Regions from separate parts of the Homo sapiens genome. Here regions 2 and 3 are each linked to region 1. The links come from fine-mapping of genetic effects on gene expression. A gene starts in region 1. Each other region holds a variant in brackets. All regions are shown on one strand. Distances are from middle to middle. Region 1 holds the start of PSMG3-AS1 (PSMG3 antisense RNA 1). Region 2 holds the start of LOC105375303 (a long non-coding RNA gene). Region 3 holds the start of LOC105375123 (a long non-coding RNA gene).

The links. PIP is the estimated chance that this variant, and not a neighbour inherited with it, causes the effect. A credible set is the group of variants that fine-mapping cannot tell apart.
Region 2: its variant is the best candidate, but not a certain one, in a credible set for the expression of PSMG3-AS1 in stomach (GTEx, PIP 0.59).
Region 3: its variant is the best candidate, but not a certain one, in a credible set for the expression of PSMG3-AS1 in aorta (GTEx, PIP 0.83).

Annotation. Positions count from the first base shown.
Region 1 is chr7:1,568,276-1,572,322 of GRCh38, forward strand. PSMG3-AS1 (PSMG3 antisense RNA 1) reads left to right here and starts at 1,798. Exons shown (of 5, transcript NR_027329.1): 1 at 1,798-2,004. PSMG3 (proteasome assembly chaperone 3) reads right to left here and starts at 1,757. Exons shown (of 2, transcript NM_032302.4): 1 at 849-1,757. The coding sequence starts at 1,064. RefSeq lists silencers at 1,429-1,858, 2,299-2,378 and enhancers at 1,487-2,055, 2,679-2,748, 2,759-2,808.
Region 2 is chr7:1,616,329-1,620,375 of GRCh38, forward strand. It overlaps LOC105375303 (a long non-coding RNA gene), which reads left to right and starts at 3,267. Exons shown (of 2, transcript NR_165252.1): 1 at 3,267-3,796. It also overlaps the pseudogene TFAMP1. The variant G/C (reference allele first, on the strand shown) is at 1,579.
Region 3 is chr7:1,590,009-1,594,055 of GRCh38, forward strand. It overlaps LOC105375123 (a long non-coding RNA gene), which reads left to right and starts at 2,431. Exons shown (of 8, transcript XR_001745048.2): 1 at 2,431-2,923; 2 at 3,095-3,304. RefSeq lists an enhancer at 3,732-3,781. The variant C/T (reference allele first, on the strand shown) is at 1,735.

The DNA.
Region 1 (4,047 bases):
CCTGCGGGCTGGACAAAGCATCCACTGAGGGCAAGCAGGGCGCCTTGAGACCCACAAATGCCCGGAAAATGCTATCGCTGTAGGGGTATTTGTCCGCCAGATGCCCCATGTCCTTACTGACAAATCACAGCCACTGGAGAGGTTTATGCTCCTCCCTGGGGGTCCCTTCCTGACCACTTTATTATTATTATTATTATTATTATTATTAAAGACAGAGTCTTGCTCTCTCACCCAGGCTGGAGCGCAGTGGCACAATCATGGCTCACTGCAGCCTCAACCTCCAGGGCTCAAGCCATCCTCCCACCTCAGCCTCCCAAGTAGCTGGGAGCACAGGCACACACCACTAGGCCCAGCTAATTTTTTGTTTCCTTTTCTTTTCCTTTTTTTTTTAAGACCAAGTCTCTATCTGTTACCCAGGCTGGAGTGCTGTGGCACGATCTTAGCTCACTGCAACCTCCGCCTCTCGGGTTCAAGCGATTCTTCTGCCTCAGCCTCCTGAGTAGCTGAGATTACAGGCATGTGCCACCACACCCAGCTAATTTTTATATTTTTCGTAGAAATGGGGTTTCCCCATGTTGGCCAGGCTGGTCTGGAACTTCTGACCTTAAGTGATCTGCCCGCCTCAGCCTCCCAAAGTGCTGGGATTACAGGTGTGAGCCACTGCACCCAGCCTCTCTCTATATATATATTTTGTGTAGGCACTTGTTTTTTTGTAGTGACTTGTGTGTGTGTTGTTGTGTTGCCCAGGCTGGTTTCAAACTCCTGGCCTCAAGCGATCTGCCCGCCTAGGCCTCTGAAAGTGCTAGGGTTACAGGCGTGAGCCACAGTTCCCGGCCAATCCACTTTACCTCATCCTGCCCCAGAAGGACTTTTGTGGTGAGCACAGGCTTGCTGACGTCACTGGCCACGCTGCTGGGCTCCAGGGAGACCAGGGTGCCCATCTTCCCAAACTGGGTCACCACCACCAGGATGTGACTGCTGAAGGCCGTACACACCACCTGGGTGGGGACCCCGCACACCACCTCCGTCTTCTGCTTCGATATCACCAACGGCGTGTCTTCCATGGCGGGGCTCTGCAGTGGCAGCTTTAATTTAGGTTAAAAAGAAAGGGGAAAAAAAGGAGTCAATCAAACAGTACAGCCTTGGGGCTCCCAAAAAAGTAGCACGGGGCATTGAAACGGAAACGCAAGGAGGCCCATTCAAAAGAAGGGGCCAGGCGCGGTGGCTCATGCCTGTCATCCCGGCACTTTGGGAGGCCGAGACAGGACGATCGTTGAGGCCAGGAATTCGAGACCAGCCTGGCCAACATAGCGAGACCCCCATCTCTACCAAAAAAAAAAAAAAAAAAAACCAGCAGGGCGCGCCTGTGGTCCCAGTTACTCAGGAGGCTGAGGCGGGAAGATCGCTTCAGCCCGGGAGGTCGAGGCTGCGGTGAGCCGTGATCACACCATTGCATTACAACCCGGGCGGTAGAGCGAGACCCTGTCCGTAAAAAAATAAAACAGAAGCAGGAGCGGGGCCGCCCATAGAGACCGCGCCTGGGGCTTTCTGGGTTAGGGGATCGACTTGCACGTTCACACTGCCAGGCCGGGCAGTGGCTTCCCGCCCCTCGGCCTCGCCGCCGCCCCGGCCCTGCAGCCGCGGCCCGGGACCCCCACGACACGCGGTGCCGAGGCCGGCCGGGCTACTGGGGACGCAGCCGCCCGGGGAAGCCCGCGGGTACCCGCGCTCACCAAGCCGGCGCCGCGCCCGGAAGTGGCTCTGCGTGCGCCACGCGGGCCCGCCCCGTCCGCGGGTTCCGTCCACCTTCCGGAAGTCAGGGCCGCGGCGCTTCTGGTCCCGGAGACTTGGGGCTCCCGGGCTTCTGAGCGGCTCGGGTTCCGCGCTGCCGGCAGGGCTTGGGGGCGCCTTAGAGCCGAACCCCGTTTTTTCAGGAAAGGGCGCTGCGACCACCCCCGTCCCGGGCCTCAGCCCCTCTGCTGCAGACCCTCGGGATCGTCGCTGGTAGGAGCTCTGTCCCCCGTGTCTGTGTCCAGGACCCCCGAAGCGCCGCGCCTAGGAACCCCCTAGCGCTGGGAGCCCGGCCCTGCTCGACCACGGGCTTTGGGCTGGAGGCGTCATCGTCGCCACAGCGAACGCTTATTTGGCACCGAGTGTCCGCCAGGCATCGCTCTAAGCGCTTTATACCCATAACTCACTTCATCTCAGCCACCCGGTTCCGTAGAAGCGTTTCATCCGCGTTTTACAGACGTGTGCAGGTGCAGAGAGCTCGGCCAGGCTCAGGCGGCGGGCGGGCTGGGGTGGGCTCCGACCGTCCCTCGGGCGCTCCGTGACACGAAGCCCCGGCCAAGGCCAAGAAGGGGGCCAGCCCCACCCTGAAGCGGGATGAGTTCTGGTTCCTCCCAGGGACCCCCTCACTCCCTACTGCTCACTCTCAGTTTCTCCAAGCTGGAAGGTTTTTTGTTTTGTTTTGTTTGAGACGGAGTCTTGCTGTGTCACCCAGGCTGGAGTGCAGTGGCGCGATCTCGGCTCACTGCAGCCTCCGCCTCCCTGGTTCAAGCAATTCTCCTGCCTCAGCCTCCTGTGTAGCTGGGATTACAGGCGTGCGCCACCAGGCCCGGCTAACTTTTTAAATTTTTAGTAGAGATGGGGTTTCACCATGTCGGTCAGGCTGGTCTTGAACTCCTGACCTCAGGTGATCTGCCTTCCTCGGCCTCCCAAAGTGCTGGGATTACAGGCGTGAGCCACCGCGCCCCGCTGCTGGAAGTTTTATTGGTAGGGTCGGACATCTTGGTAGCAGAGGCTGAAAGTGATTGGAGCCTCCAGAGCCTTCCTCGGGGTGGGGCGTTTAACATCCCTTCAGAACCCCACCCTCGGAGGCCTTACTGTCGTTTCCTGACAACCATGTCAAGGCCGTATTTTCTGTCTATATTACCAGAAAGGGGTCCCGATCCAGACCCCAAGAGAGAATTGAGGGCGAGTCCACAAAGTGAAAGCAAGTTTATTAGAAAAGTAAAGGAATTGAGGCAGGAAAACAGGGTCTGGAGGCAGGGAACACTTCAGCTATGACAGGAAATACCCTCTCCATAGGGTGTACACTGAGTAAATGATTTTGTAACTTTATTTCATCCTCTTTATTTACATAGGGCGTACACCAAGTAACCAGTAGAAACCCCTAGAGGGTATTTAAACCTCACAAGTTCTGTAATGGGGCCCTGAGCCTCTATGCTTTGGCCGCCCCCACACCATGGAATGTACTTTCATTTTCAAAAAATTTCTGCTTTTGTTGCTTCATTCTTTTTTTGCTTTGTGCATTTTTTTTTTTTTGAGACAGAGTCTCTGTTGTCCATGCTGGAGTGCAGTGGCGTGATCCTCACTGCAACCTCTGCCTCCCGGGTTCAAGCAATTCTCCTGCCTCAGCCTCCTGAGTAGCTGAGATTACAGACGTGCGTCACCATGCCCGGCTAACTTTTGTGTTTTTAGTAGAGACGAGGTTTCGCCATGTTGGCCAGGCTGGTCTTGAACTCCTGACCTCAGGTGATCTGCCCGCCTCGGCCTCCCAAAGTGCTGGGATTATAGGTGTGAGCCACCGCGCCCGGTGGCTTTGTGCATTTTGTCCAATTCTTTGTTCAAGATGCCAAGAACCTGGACACCCTCCACCAGTAACAGAATAAAGAATGGCTACTCCATAGGCAGAGCAGCATGGGCTGCTGGTTGCCCATTTTTGTGGTTATTTCTTGATGATATGCTAAACAAGGGGTGGATTATTCGTGCCTTACCTTTTTAAACCCTTTAGGGTAACGTCCTGGCATTGCTATGGCATTTGTAAACTTACGGCGCTGGTGGGAGTGTAGCAGCTGGGACGACCAGAGGTCACACTCATCGCCATGTTGGTTTGGTGGGTTTTGGTCAGCTTCTTTACTGCAAACTGTTTTATCAGTAAGGTCTTTATGACCTGTAGCTTGTGCCGACCTCTTATCTCATCCTGTGACATAGAATGCCTTAACTGTCTGGGAATGCAGCCCAGCAGATCTCAGCCTCATTTTA
Region 2 (4,047 bases), 48 kb after region 1:
CCTGGTGCCTTTCCCTTTTTTTAAGTAAGGAAATATATTTTTTTCTGAATTATTTTCTCTCATGCGAGTATATTGATCCAGAAAGAAAACTTGCATTGTATATATTTTAAAATGAGAAATCTAAAAAAAAGAGAAGTATCCAAAGTCTCTGGAATTTGAAACACTTTGCATAACGTATTAAAGCCTGTATAAGAGACAGCCAACTATGGCCTGTGGACCAAATCCAGCCTGCTGCCTGCTTTCTGTGTCCTGTGAGCTAGGAATTGTGTTTATAATTTTAAATGCTTTGTTTTTAAAGACTTTTATGATACATGAAAATTAACATGAATATTTAGTGTTCATAAATAAAGTTTATTGGAACACAACCAAAAAAAAAAAAAAAACCCAAAACACCCCAGTTCAGAACTCCTTGGGGAGATGGATTTGAGGGTCTCCTCCCATCTCCCTGCTTGGCTCCCAGCGATCCTGAAACTCTTTCTCTGCTGCAAACCCTGCTGCCTCCGCGCATTGGACTGTGACTGCATAACAGGCACTCGAACCTGTGGGCCCACATGCAGCTCTTCCCTCCTGAGTGTGACCTCGGGTGAGCCCTGCGTCCTTGAGGAGCCTCTGTTTCCTCATCTGTGAACTGGGGTCACACCTCCTGCCCTGCAGAGTTGCTGTGACAGTGATGACGTGTGGAGCACCAGCATGGTCTGCCAGCGTGTGGGGCCAGGACAGAACACTTCCCCATTGCTGCTCCCTTGGTGTTTGGGTTCCTGGTCCAGGGCACCTTCCTCCTCCCCCAGCCTGGACCAAGCCCACTCCTGTGTGTGCTTTCAAGTGGACAGGAGGCCCAGGGCAGGGAGGGCAGCCCACGCTTACTTTAAGAATTTCTGACCTCCAGAGACAAGGATGCCAGGACCTCCACTGGGGGCCACCATGGCAAACTTTCCCGCTTTCAGGACACCCCACATGGCCCCCGGGATCTGGCTTTGGGAAGGAAGATGGTGCCTGGATTGCGAAGGCCTTTCAATCTCATGCCCTGCGTCATGGGGTAAATTGTGTCTCCCTCAAATTCATACGCCAAAGTTCTCACCCCCAGGACCTCAGAATATGGCTGTATTTGGAGACAGAATCTTTTTATTTTTATTTTTATTTTTATTTTATTTTATTTTATTTTTTGGAGACAGGGTCTCACCCTGTCACCCAGGCTGGAGTGCAATGGCCCTATCAGGACTCACTGTAGCCTCCACCTCCTGGGCTCAAGCAATGCTCCTGCCTCAGCCTCCTAAGTAGCTGGGACCACAGGCATGCACCACCATGCCTGGCTAATTTTTAAAAATTCTTTTGTAGAGATGGGGTCTTACTATGTTGCCCAGGCTGGTTTTGAACTCCTGCCCTCAAGCAATCCTCCTGCCTCAGTCTCCCAAAGTGCTGGGATTACAGGCACGAGCCACGGTGTCTGGCCAGAGACACGGTCTTTAAAGAGATAATGGAGGGAAAATGAGGTCACTAGGGTGGGCTCTGATCCAATCTGACTGGAGTCCTTCTAAGAAGAGGAGATTAGGACACAGATGCTCACGGAAGGACAATCAC[G/C]TGAGGACATGGGGAGAAGATGCTGTCTGGAAGCTGAGGAGGAGGCCTCAGGGGATCCAGCCCCACCCACACCTTGATGTTGGACTTCCAGCCTCCAGGATCGTGGGAAATAAACGTCTGTTGTTTCAGCCACCTGGTCTGTGAGAGTTTGTTATGGCGGCCCAAGCAAACTGACCCACCGAGGAATTTCGCTTTTGATCTTATGGGTGGTGGGGTCAGTGGGGGCTTTGAAGCCTTGGTCCCACACAGGGCTGGGGGCTCCTCGGCTGCAGGGTGGAGGGGGCACTCCACGGGGAGAGGCACAGGCTGGGAGACCAGTGTGTAGGAGTGTGTCTGTGTAGGGGTGTGTGTTTGTATGTAGGGATGTGTGTATGTAGGGGTGTGTGTGTGCGCCTGTGTAGATGTGTGTGTGTAGGGGTGTGTGTGTCTGTGTAGGTGTGTATGTAGGTGTGTGTGTATGTAGGGGTGTGTATGTAGGGTGTGTGTGTGTGCCTGTGTAGATGTATGTGTGTGTAGGGGTGTGTGTGTGTGTGTCTGTGTAGGTGTATATAGGTGTGTGTGTGTATGTAGGGGTGTGTGTGCCTCTGCAGGTGTGTGTGTGCCTGTGTGTGTGTGTATGTAGGGGGTATGTGTGTAGGGGTGTGTGTGTATGTAGGGGGTGTGTGTATGTAGGGGTGTGTGTAGGGGTGTGTGTATGTAGGGGTGTATGTGTGTAGGTGTGTGCGTGTAGGGGTGTGTGTACATGTAGGTGTGCATAGGTGTGCGTAGGTGTGTGTAGGTGTGTGTAGGGGTATGTGTGTGTAGGGTTGTGTATGTAGGGGGTGTAGGTGTGAGTGTATGTAGGGGGTGTGTGTTATGAGGGGTGTGTGTGTGTAGGTGTGTGTGTAGGTGTGTGGAGGGGTGTGTGTAGGTGTGTAGGGTGTGTGTACATGTAGGTGTGCATAGGTGTGCGTAGGTGTGTGTAGGTGTATGTGTGTATGTGTGTATAGGGTTGTGTGTGTATGTAGGGGGTGTAGGTGTGTGTGTATGTAGGGGTGTGTGTTATGTAGGGGTGTGTGTAGGTGTGTGTATAGGGGTGTGTGTAGGTGTGTGTATGTGGGGGGGTGTGTTATGTAGTGTGTGTAGGTGTGTGTAGGGGTGTGTGTAGGTGTATGTGTGTGTATGTGTGTGTGTAGGTGTGTGTGTATGTAGGGGTGTGTGTAGGGGTGTGTAGGGGTGTGTAGGGGTGTGTGTAGCTGTATGTGTGTGTAGGGGTGTGTGTAGGTGTGTGTGTATGTAGGGGTGTGTGTTATGTAGGGGTGTGTGGCGGTGTGTGTATAGGGGTGTGTAGGTGTGTGTAGGGGTGTGTGTAGGTGTGTGTAGGTGTGTGTGTATAGGGGTGTGTAGGTGTGTGTAGGGGTTGTGTGTAGGTGTATGTGTGTCGGGGTGTGTGTAGGTGTGTGTAGGTGTGTGTGTGTAGGGTGTATGTACATGTAGGTGTGTGTGTGAGTGTGGGTGGCGCGAGGGTTCTCCAGCCCCAAGTGCGTTGGTAAGAACGCGAGGAGGGGAGAAGGACAGCTGGAACCGTCTGAGCGGCGGGGGAGCCGGTGTGTGAAGCCGGCACCACGTTAGCGGAACCGAGTTATTGAAGGGCCCCACCTGGGTGGAGCCGTGAGTGTGAGCAGCTTCCGCTTCCCCCGGAAGCTGGCGTCGTGCAGGAACCCTCACCCGCCCGAGCGGGGCCCTGGGCCTCCGGGTCACTCTCTGTGGCGGGGTCTGGCTGCGCGTCAGACGGCCTCCTCCAATGCCCGCAGTTGCTGTCGCCCCCAGGCCTGGACCGGGGAGTGAGGGGTGGGCCTGACCGGCCCCTGAGCTCCCGTCAGCCCCCCACGCGAGCCCGTCCTGTGCTGGGGGCAGGGAGATGGGCCGGTGGGAGAGGAGACCGCATCCAGCCCTCCCTGGCCACCTGCAGGGTCCCCACCGTGGCGGCTGCTTTACTGCTAACTCCTCCCGGGGACCCCAAGTCCCCATCGCTCTCGGGGGTCCCCCTCATCCGAACCGCCTCGGAGGAGGGCCGCATCTCACGCGGAGCACCCCTCCACGCCTGTGACCCTGGACTTGCTCTCCCGCCCCCGCCCGGGCCTCAGGGCTCAGGAGGCCGTGATGAAGCCAGCAGGTGAACTGCACCCTGGAGCCTCCGACGGGGCGGCCACGGGCAGCGAAGAACCCGGAAAAACAGGTTCGAGGCAGACACAAGATCCAGGCCCCGGCAGGCTCCGTGTCTGCCGAAGGCTTCCTGGGTCATAGGCGACACCTTCCCGCCGTGCCCTCTTGTGGGAAAGGGGTGAGGGAGCCCTCTGGGGCTCCTTTTATTTATTTTTAATTTTTTAATTTTTTAATTTTTTGAAGTGGAGTTTTGCTCCTGTTGCCCAGGCTGGAGTGCGGTGGCGCAACGTCGGCTCACCGCAAGCTCCGCCTCCCGGGTTCAAG
Region 3 (4,047 bases), 22 kb after region 1:
CAGCTAATTTTTGTATTTTTAGTAGAGGCGGGGTTTCACCATGTTGGCCAGGCTGGTCTTGAACTCCTGACCTCAGGCAGGTGATCCCCCCCGCCTTGGCCTCCCAAAGTGCTGGGATTATAGGCGTGAGCCACTGTGCCCAGCCTTCATTCCTTTTGAAGGCTGAGTAATGCTCCACTGTGTGGAAGGACCACGTTTTGTGTATCCATTCATCGGTCCACGACACTTGGGCTGCTTTCCCCTTTTGGCTGTTGGGGACGGTGCTGCTGTGAACGCGGGTGAACAAATGACTCAGTCCCCACATGCTCTTGATGGAGCCCGGAGCCCACAGATTCAACGGGAGGGGGAACAGCTTCCTCTCAATGGGAGGGGGGCAAAGAATTTGCAGTCTTTTTTCTGTTCATTTGTTTGTTTGTAGACAGGGTCTTGCTCTGTCACCCAGGCTGGAGTGCAGTGGCACCATCAAAGCTCACTGCAGTCTCAACCATCTGGGCTTAAGCGATCCTCCCACTTCAGCCTCCAGAGTAGTTGGGACTACAGGTGCATGCCACCAAGCCTGGCTAATTTTAATGTTTTTGTAGCAAAGGGATCTGGAGATGCTGCCTAGGCTGATCTCAAACTCCTGGACTCAAGGGATTTTCCCACCCCGGCCTCTCAAAGTTGTTGGGATTACAGGTGTGAGTCACCTTTAATTCCCTGCACCGTGCTAGACAGAGATTGCTGAAGACTGTGTTCCCGGGGCCACATAGCAAATCTGCCAAATGGCAGAGGAAAGGGGAGATAGGGGCCCGGGGTCTGGAGAAATGAGGCTGGGTCTGGGGAAGACAGGTCAGAGGCAGCGTGGCTGGGAGATGCAGCTGGGAGAAGTGGAAGGAGAGGGTGGGCGTGGAGGCTTCCGGAGAGGGGTGGGCATGTATCATCCCTCAGGAGTGGAGAGACTTGGGTTGGGTTCAGAGAAAACCAGGCTGGGGAGAACTTGAGAGCCCAGGCGTGAAGGCTGATGTGTGTCTGGGCTTCACCGCCCTGAGCTGTGTGGTCAGGAGCCATCACTGAAACTCTCAAACATCCTCTTTTATAAGATGGGAATAATAATAGGACCCCTTCAAAGGGCGTCGAGGGAATTCAGAGGGAAAGTCTGTGCATACCTCTGACCTGGCTGTGATATTCATTTTAGGAGTCAACTTGACTGGGGTAAGTGGCGCCTAGAGAGCTGGTAAAAAACATCACTTCTGGGCGTGTCTGTGAGGCTGTAATGGCCAGCCGGGTGGGTCCAAGCTCTCTTCAGCAGTCCCCGGGGCTGGCAGCTAGCAGGTCTTGTGGTCTCTGAGGCCTTGGGGGGCACCTCCCGTTGTTTGCCCCCACCTACATCTGCTCAGAACACGCTTCCCACCTCCACCGCCCCTTCTCCCTGCAGGACCACCTGCCTCTTCCTGCCTCCCCGCCCAGCCTGCCTTTTCCTTGCACGACAGCCAAAATCCCATTCCCCCAAGTTTCCAGAAGGGATCAGCACTTGAATCAGCAGACCAAGTAGACAAGTCCACCCTCCCCAATGTGGGCAGGTGTCACCCAAACCACTGAGGCCTCCCCCGGGACAAAGGCAGGGGAGGGAATTCTCTCTCTTCCTGTGCTGGGACATCCATCTCCTCCTGACTTTGGACATCGAGCTCCTGTTCTCAGGCCTTCAAACTTGGACTGAATTGCTCCACTGGCTTCCCTGGGCCTCCAGCTTGCAGA[C/T]AGCAGATGGTGGGGCTTCTCAGCCTCTGTGATTCTGTGAGCCGATTCCCATGTAGATCTCTCTCTGTCTCTCTCTCTCTCTCTCTCTGTCTGTCTCTGTCTCTGTGTCTCTGTACACACATGCACACACAGACACACACATATATCCTTTGGTTCTGTGTCTCTGGAGAACCCTGGCTAATCTATGTGCACTTCCCAGCCACCCAGCCTGAGCCAGAGCTGTCTGGGAGGCTGCAGCCTCCCTCGCCGGGAGCCCACATCAGTCAGACGGCTGTGGGTTGGCGGGTGGTGGGGAGTTCCCCTCCCCGCAGCATCCAGCTGGTGGTCCGAGGCGCCGCGGCCCCTCACAGGGCTCTGCCTGCGGGAGGCTGGACTGGTTTCCTTCTTGGGCATCTCAGGATCTCAGCAGAAACTGGGGACTTCCTGAGGTCATGCTTCCGAAGGTGGGACGTCCTCACTGCATGCCACCGGCCGACAGGAAGCATGGCTGGCCCAGCCCTCCGGGGATGGAAATCCACTCTACTCATGACTGGGCAGGAAAAATGGGGCGCGAAGGATGGGAAGAGCCGTGGCGGCCCACCCAGAGACCGGCCAGCTGGCGTCTAGCTACAAGAGGCCATGCAACAGTGGGAGTGGGTGGTGGGGCCGGGCGGGCAGGAGCAGCCCACTCTGCGGGGGTGTGGGGACAGACACGCACTCTATGGAAGTACCTCGGTGGCACCAGGAGTCACTGGGGGCACCCAGCAGGTGCATGCTTAATGCATGATGGGTGAGACGTAAACAGCCAGCCAGGCGGGTCCAAGCTCTCTTCAGTGGTCCCCAGGGCTGGCAGCTGGCAGTGCAGGAAATGGGGTCCCCGAGGCCTTGGGGGGCACCTCCCGTTGTTCGCCCCCACCCACATCCGCTCAGGACACGCTTCCCACCTCCACCGCCCCCTTTCCCTGCAGGGACACCTGCCTCTTCCTGCCTCCCCGCCCAGCCTGCCTTTTTCTTGCACGTCAGCCAAAATCCGATTCCCCCAAGACTCTGCCTCATCAAAGATCCTCTTTCTCATCACCATAATTTTCCATTTGTAGGTTAAGCTGCACCTGGGGTTCTCAGAAATCTGCTAACTCTCTTCCAACTCCCTGAACTCCTCAAACGCCTCGTCCTCCCCTGCTTCTGTTGTTCAGAGGACAGGACGTAGCAGGTGGGGGCGTGGAGAGGGGGCGGCTGGGGAGTGCCTTGTCCGGGAACATCTTCGGAGACCATGTATGGGTAGGGGGGAGCCAGGCTCCTCCATCGAGTCCATAGAACTGTTTACCTGGAAACAGCAAGACCGAGGCAGCTGTGCTCTCACCTTTTTGTCCGTCCTTTCCAGGGGTCTGGAATCTGAGGCTCAGAGCCCTTTCCCAGGAAGAAGAGGGCAACCAGCCCCTTTCAGCATGTCCCGTGCTCCGTGCACCTCTGTGACACCTGGTTACTGTACTCTGAAGCTTCGCACACCCCCGCAGTCTCCATCGTAACCCCAGAAAACCAAGGCTCAGAAGGCGACGGGCCCCAGGGCACCCGGACGGTGACGACGGTGGCTGTGAGATGACAATCTGGGTCTCTGGGATTTCAATTAGGTTTGGAGGATAAAAGGTGTGAATAGGAAGCTATCACACAAGCTAGAACATGCCCGGTCCCAGATCAGGCTGTATTCCTGTGATTTGGTGTGGGTACAGAGGAGAGACTCTCCCTGGGGGTCCAAGTGGACAGTAGCATTGGGGAGGGCATCCCTGGCAGGGGGCATGGCATGGGACAAAGGCTGGGGGGAGGGAGGCTTGGGGCAGATTGAGTGCAGGATGCCTGTGTGTGACCAGGCCGGGCGGCCCCCAGGCCTCGGGGCAGCCAGACCCACCTTGCCTCAGGGCGGTGCTCACAGAGGCTGGGCAGGGAGTTAGCAGGACGCCTGCAGGACCTCCTTGTGAGCCCCCTGCTGGCCAAGGGGAAGGAAGGAGGCCTCTGAACATGGGGAGAGAAGCCAGAGCCCAGCCCTGGCACCTTGGGCCCTTGGGAAGCTGCTATCCAGGCAGGGTGGACTGGAGCCCCCGCAGGAGACCCCCAAGCCCAGAAGCACCTCTGCTGATAGTGCCCCAGGTTCTCTGCCTTTCCGAGATGGTCCCAAGGTCACCACCCCAGAGGGACACAGCCCCAGGCCAAGGGCGCTAGTCTGCCCTCCTTCCTCCCTCCTTCCCTGCTTCCTGCCCCTTTTCTTCCCCCTTCTTCCCCCCTTTTTTCTCCCTCCTCCTTCTTCTTTCCCTCCTCCCTCCATCCCTCTCTCCTCTATGC